Regions from separate parts of the Homo sapiens genome. Here region 1 is linked to region 2. The links come from fine-mapping of genetic effects on gene expression. Tissue or cell type: esophagus mucosa. Region 2 holds a variant in brackets; the other region holds the start of a gene. All regions are shown on one strand. Distances are between the middles of the regions. Region 1 holds the start of NALF2 (NALCN channel auxiliary factor 2). Region 2 has its middle 59 kb from the start of NALF2.

Evidence for each region. PIP is the estimated chance that this variant, and not a neighbour inherited with it, causes the effect.
Region 1: NALF2 starts here. The variant in region 2 is fine-mapped to the expression of NALF2 in esophagus mucosa (GTEx, PIP above 0.99). The same link has a PIP of 0.9 or more in esophagus muscle.

Annotation. Positions count from the first base shown.
Region 1 is chrX:69,502,712-69,505,622 of GRCh38, reverse strand. It overlaps NALF2 (NALCN channel auxiliary factor 2), which reads right to left and starts at 1,297. Exons shown (of 3, transcript NM_015686.3): 1 at 1-1,297. The coding sequence starts at 340. RefSeq lists a silencer at 171-344.
Region 2 is chrX:69,443,740-69,446,650 of GRCh38, reverse strand. No RefSeq gene overlaps it. Among named protein-coding and RNA genes, the nearest start is that of NALF2, 59 kb to the left of the region's middle. The variant G/A (reference allele first, on the strand shown) is at 1,199.

The sequences.
Region 1 (2,911 bases), 59 kb before region 2:
AGGTGCCTGGGGGCGCGCTGGGCTCGCCGGGCGGCGGCGGCGGCAGCGGCAGCACCGCGCGAGGAGGCACCGGCTGCCGCTCCCGGCCGGCCCCCCATGGGGGCCGCATGGCGCTGCTCAGCTCCCTGGCCCGGGGCCGGGCCCCCGCGCACAGCCACAGATGGTCAGCGAGCAGCACGGTGAAGAAGAGCAGGGACGCCAGGGACAGTCGCCATCGCTGCGCCCGCTCGGAGTCGGCGCAAGGTTTGTCGCTCGGCCTGGGAGCCCAGCAGCAGCAGCAGCAGCAGATAGTCAGCGCGGCGGCGTCTTTCCCGGGCCACATCCAAGCGCCCCTGAACATATTTCAGGGGGGTCCGGGCTGGAGGGAACAGGCAGGCGCGAGGCCAGACGGCCGTCTGGGGCGGGCGGGCTGCGCGCCGCTCTGCGCTCCTCGGCGCCGTCCAGGCTCTACCTCGGGGGCTGCATGGTGAGGCAGGCCGGCCGGCGCGATGCCCCGCTCAGGCCGGAGTCGCGGGGCGCTCTGGTGCCGTCTCCGCGCCGCTCCCGCGCTCCGTCGCTCTCAGCCCGGGCGCCGCCGCCCGGCCCGCTAGGCGCTGCCCGGCGTCCCGGCTGGGGGCGGTGCGGGGCACTGGGGCGGTGGCGGCTGCGGCGGCGGCGCCGCACTCCTCATAGTGTCGGGCCCCTCAGCTGCCCTCGGCTCCGTGCCACTTCACTCCGCGCCGGCGGCCGCCCGGCTCGCACTCCAAACCGGCCGTCTCGGTTCGGCGCAGCTCTGCGCCCCTCAGCGCCGCCGTGCGGGCCCCGCCGCCGCGCTCCGCTCCGCTCCCCTCGCCCCGCGCCGCTCCGCTCCCGCCCGTCCGCCCGCTGCCCGCTCCACGCCGCTCCCTGCCTCGCTCGCGCCCTCCTAGGCCGGCCGGCCGGTCCGTTGCCGGGCCCTTCGGGCTTCGTTCGCGCTCCGGGTGTTCGCCGGGGCCAGTCCCTGGCGGGCTCCGCTCTGGCTCCGCACCCGCTGCTCCTGGAGTTCCGGCTCGGGCGGGCCACCTGGCTCCCGGCAGCGCCACAGGCGCCGGACGCAGACACCGGGCTTTACTTAGTGCGCCTCTCGCTTCCGCCTCTCGTTCGCACCGCTGTGGCTGCAGCCCAGCGGCACGGCCCCGTGGCTCCCGCTGGCCATGCACCCTCAGTCTGTCGCCATCTTCCGCTGTGCGGAGAACACCTTGAGAGCCCCTGTGCAAGTGTGTTTGGCGGGGAGCAGGGCGGAGAAAGAGGCACGGAGAGGAGGAGGGAGCGGGACTGGTGCCCCGACTGCGCCTGCGCCTCAGGACTCCCCCCACCCCACCCCGCCCCAGCCCCCGCCGGCCGCAGCCGGTGCTGTTTGGGGATGTTTCCAGTCCACCCCCAACTCCATTCACTTCAGCGCCTCCGTTCATCCGCCCGCTGCCCGCGTGCACATGCCACACGCTGAGTCCCAGGCCTCGGCGCTCCCCCTCCCCCACTAACCCGGGCGCCCGCCTTCCTCTCCATGGCCGTCCCTCACTCCCCCGAGGGCTAGGGGACTTCTGAGGGTGATTCTTGGAGGCAAGGAGCAGCAGGCATCTCGTAGCTGCTTGCTGCCTCTCTGGGTCGCCTCCGCCGTCCCCGTGACTGGAAGACGCTCGAGCCGGCTGCGGATCGGACCAGTCCAGTGTCCCTAACTCCACCTTCGCCCTCACCGTCCTGCCCGAGGACAAGGCGGCCCTTGGTGCTGAAGGACAGCTCCCAGCTTAGCTGCTGAGGAAGACTGAGTTTGGAGAGCGTCCTGGAGGGGGCAAGGCGGTGGGCTAAGATAGTAGTGGTGGGGTGTCGGTGTTTGCCCTTAGGAATATTTCCAGCAGCCTCCACCCCCCACCCGCCCGCCCCCCACCCAAGCACCAGCCCCCGTCCTAGCTTTTTGGCTCCCCCTACAGGCTGCTGAGAATAGCTGACTGAGAGTTAGAGAAGCTGCGCCGCCCGGATGGAACCATGTGCTTGGGCCCTCACAGAGTCACATGGCACTAGGAATTCGGACGTACAAACATCCTGACGCGCCACTAACCTTGTTTGGACTCCACTGACCCTGTGGTCTGCTTGCCTTCCTCACTCCCAGTAACTCACATTGTAATTTTTTGTCAACCGTTGCCGGCAAGCATTTGTTAATGTTAAGAATAACAATAAAGAAAATAGCCTTAATTGAGCGCGTACTATGTGCTAGGTACTGCTCTATACATTTTGCATGCATTCGTCATCCAATCTTCACAACAGTGTTATGAGATAGGTACTACTGTTATCTTCATTTACATACAAAGAAGCTGAGGTTTAGTGTGGTTGTTGCCTAAAGTAACCAGAGCAGCTAAAAAAGAAACTCAGTCTGACTCTAGAATTCTCTTAACACTCCAGTAAGGCCCTGGAAAGATGAAAGAGCCAAGGCATTCCTTCCTTAAAGGAAATTATAGTCTATATAAGGAAACAAGACATGTATATTGGCTAGTGGGAGGATTCATGAACTAGAGCCTTGGATAAATAACTCAACTGCTGATATGCTGTGTACCCTTGAGAGTCTTTTCCTTTTCTGAGTCTTGGTTTTCCCCTGAGTAACACGAAGGGATGCCAAGGATCAAATGAAATGGGTGGGCATCGTTAGCACTACTCAGAGGTGGACTGGGGTGGGTACATAAAAGGTTTCTGGAAGAGGGACAAATGGAGCTAGTTTCTAAAGTAGCAGGATTAGGGTGGGTGGTTGAGAAGGGCATTCCAAATAAAAGGAATGCAGATGAAAAGTTTCAGGGGTAGGGAGCAGCTTTGTATGTTTGTGAAGCCACGAGTGTGGCAGTTTGGCTATATTGATGGTGAGAATTTGTGGGGAAGGGAGTAGCAGGAAATGAGACAAGGGACA
Region 2 (2,911 bases):
ATCCTTAAAAGAGACTTCACTGATACATATACAATAATGCTAAAGTCAAAACAGCTAAGTGCTTGTTTTCTCATATGATTATGAAGTGGGATTTTTTTCTAGTCTATACTTTACTAAGGTTTGGTTCATTGGGGGCCTTCATTAGTGTGTGTGATGGTTTTAATTCTTACTCTTACTTCTTACAAGGGCCCAGAGCCTTTTTCTGCTACACCCATATGTCTGTTAAATCAAAAGCTGCATGATCAGAGATCTAAATGTGAAAAGCAAAACAATAGAGCTTTTAGGGAAAAAAATAGAGAATATCTTCATGACCTTAAGATAAGCAGAGATTTCATGATCAGGACATAAAAGTACTAACCATTTAAGAAAACATTGTTAAATTGGATTGTATTGAAACTAAGAACTTCTGTTTATCAAAAGGTACCATTAACAAGTGAAAAGAGAAGTCACAAAGCAGGTAAAGGTATTTGCAATGTATAGATCCAACAGAAGATTGTATCTAGACTATATAAGAAACACTTGTAAATCACAAAGAAAAACAAAAATAACCCCCCCAAAAAAACAAAGATACTGGAATGACTAGTAAACATATGAAAAAGTATTTAACTTCATTAGTCATCAGGGAAATGTGAATTAAAACCACAGTGTGAAATTTCTTTATACCTACCGGAATGGAAAAATGTGAAATAATAAAAAATTAATTGTATTAAATGTAAGCAGTCTTATACACTGCTGGTGGGAGGGTAAATTTTTACAACAAATTTGGAAAACTGGAAGTATCTAATGAAGCTTAATATACACATATCTTATCTCTCAGCGATTCCACTTCTAGTATATGCCTAACAGAAATACAAATATTTCTCCATCAAAAGACATGTATAAGACAATGCATCATTATTATCAGCATTATTTGTAATAGCTCCAAACTGGAACATTCCAAACATTCATCACCAGTATAATGGATAAATAAATTGTGATGTGTTCATACACTGGAATACTATACAGCAATGAGAATGAACAAATTACACCTCCATCCAAAACACGGGTGAATTTTACAAGCGAAGTATTGAGCAAAAGAGGCCAGATAAAAAAGTACATACTATATAAGTCCATTCTATAAAGTTCCAAAACAGATAAAATTGACCTACAATGTTAGAAGTTAGAATAGAGTTACCTTTGGGAGATAGTGACAGAACAG[G/A]ATGTAAAGTGAGGCTTCTGGGGTAATGCTCTGTTTCTTGATCTGGGTGTTGGTTACATGGATTTGTTCACTTAAAGAAAATTTATTGGCCAGGCAAGGTGGCTCACGTCTGTAATCCCAACACTTTGGGAAGCTGAGGTGGGCAGATTGTCTGAGGTCAGGAGTTTGAGACCAGTCTAGCTAACATGGTGAAACCCTGTCTCTACTAAAAATACAAAAAAATTAGCTAGGTGTGGTGCCATGCACCTGTAATCCCAGCTACTCAGAAGGCTGAGGCAGGAGAATTGCTTGAACCAGGGAGTTGGAGGTTGCAGTGAGCCGAGATCTTGCCACTGCGCTCCAGCCTGGGTGACAGAGCGAGACTCCATAAAAAAGAAAAGAAAAGAAAAGAAAAGAAAAGAAAAGAAAAGTTATCAAGCTAGACACTTAAGATATATACACTTTTCTATTTATATGTTATACTTCAATACAAATTAACTTTCGGAAAATAGAAAAAGAACTGAGGCCCAGGTTTGGATATGGAAAAATAAGTAATGAGAGGTCATTGGTATCTTAAAGTTAAAAATTGTTTTTTCGTTTTGCCAAATTTTTACTTTAGTTAGAGTTAGTTTACTTTAATTAGAGTTAATTTAATTAAAGTTTTACTTTAAATTCGTTAATTATGACCAATGTCATAAAGCTTTTCCTCTATGTTTTCTTTTAGGAGTTTTAGTATCAGATTTTATGTTTAAATGTTTAACCCATTTTGAGTTTATTTTTGTGTAAGGTGTAAGATAAGGGTCTAATTTCATTCTTTTGCATGCAGGTATTGAGTTTTCCCAACACTATTTGTTGAAGACACTGTCCTTTCCCTGTTGTGTATTCTTGGTACCTTGGTTGAAGATCAGTTAACTATAGATGTGTGCGTCTAATTCTGTGCTCTCTATTCTGTTCCATTGGTCTATAGGTCTGTTTTTATGATGGTACTGATAAAAACTTAATATCCAAAATACAAGGAGTGGCCAAATGGCTGACTAGAAGCAGCTAGTGTGCATGGCTGTCATGGAAAGGAAGAGAAAGGGTGAGTAAATACAATATGCTCAACTGAAACATCCAGGTATGCCCATTGGGATTAATCAAGGAAACAACTTGACCCACAGGGAAGGGAGAAAAGTGAGACAGGACAACAGCCCACCTGGGAGCAACACAGAGCCAAAGGATCCTCCCATGCCCAGGGAAGTAATGAGTGAATGAGTGACCCCTGGAAACCATGCTTCTCCCACAGATCTTTGCAAACCTCAGGTCAGGAGATCTTGTGAACCCACTCCACCAGGGCCTTCAGCATTCAGTCTGACAGTCAGAGCTATGTGGAGTTTCAGCAGAGCTCAGGCGTGCACAGAGACCCTGGAGCCTTAGATACTTGGGATTTCTGGCAAAAGTAGCTGCAGCTTCAGCAAAGTGGGAAAGTAGAATAGTAGGAAAGAGGCAGAATCCAGAGGGCTGAGCAGCAACAGCCTGCAGGCCCCACTTCCATGGCACCTCACAAGATAAGACCTACTGGATTGGAGTTCCAGCTGGCTACCAGTAGTGGCATTACACCTCCCTAAGAAGGAGCTCCTTGGGGGAGGTGTAGTCCACCATCTTTGCTGTTCGGGTACCTTAGCTGTTCTAGCCTTCAGGCTTTGGAGAGTGTGAGCTGACGCAGGGCAGAACTGATCCTCTGGTACAGCACAG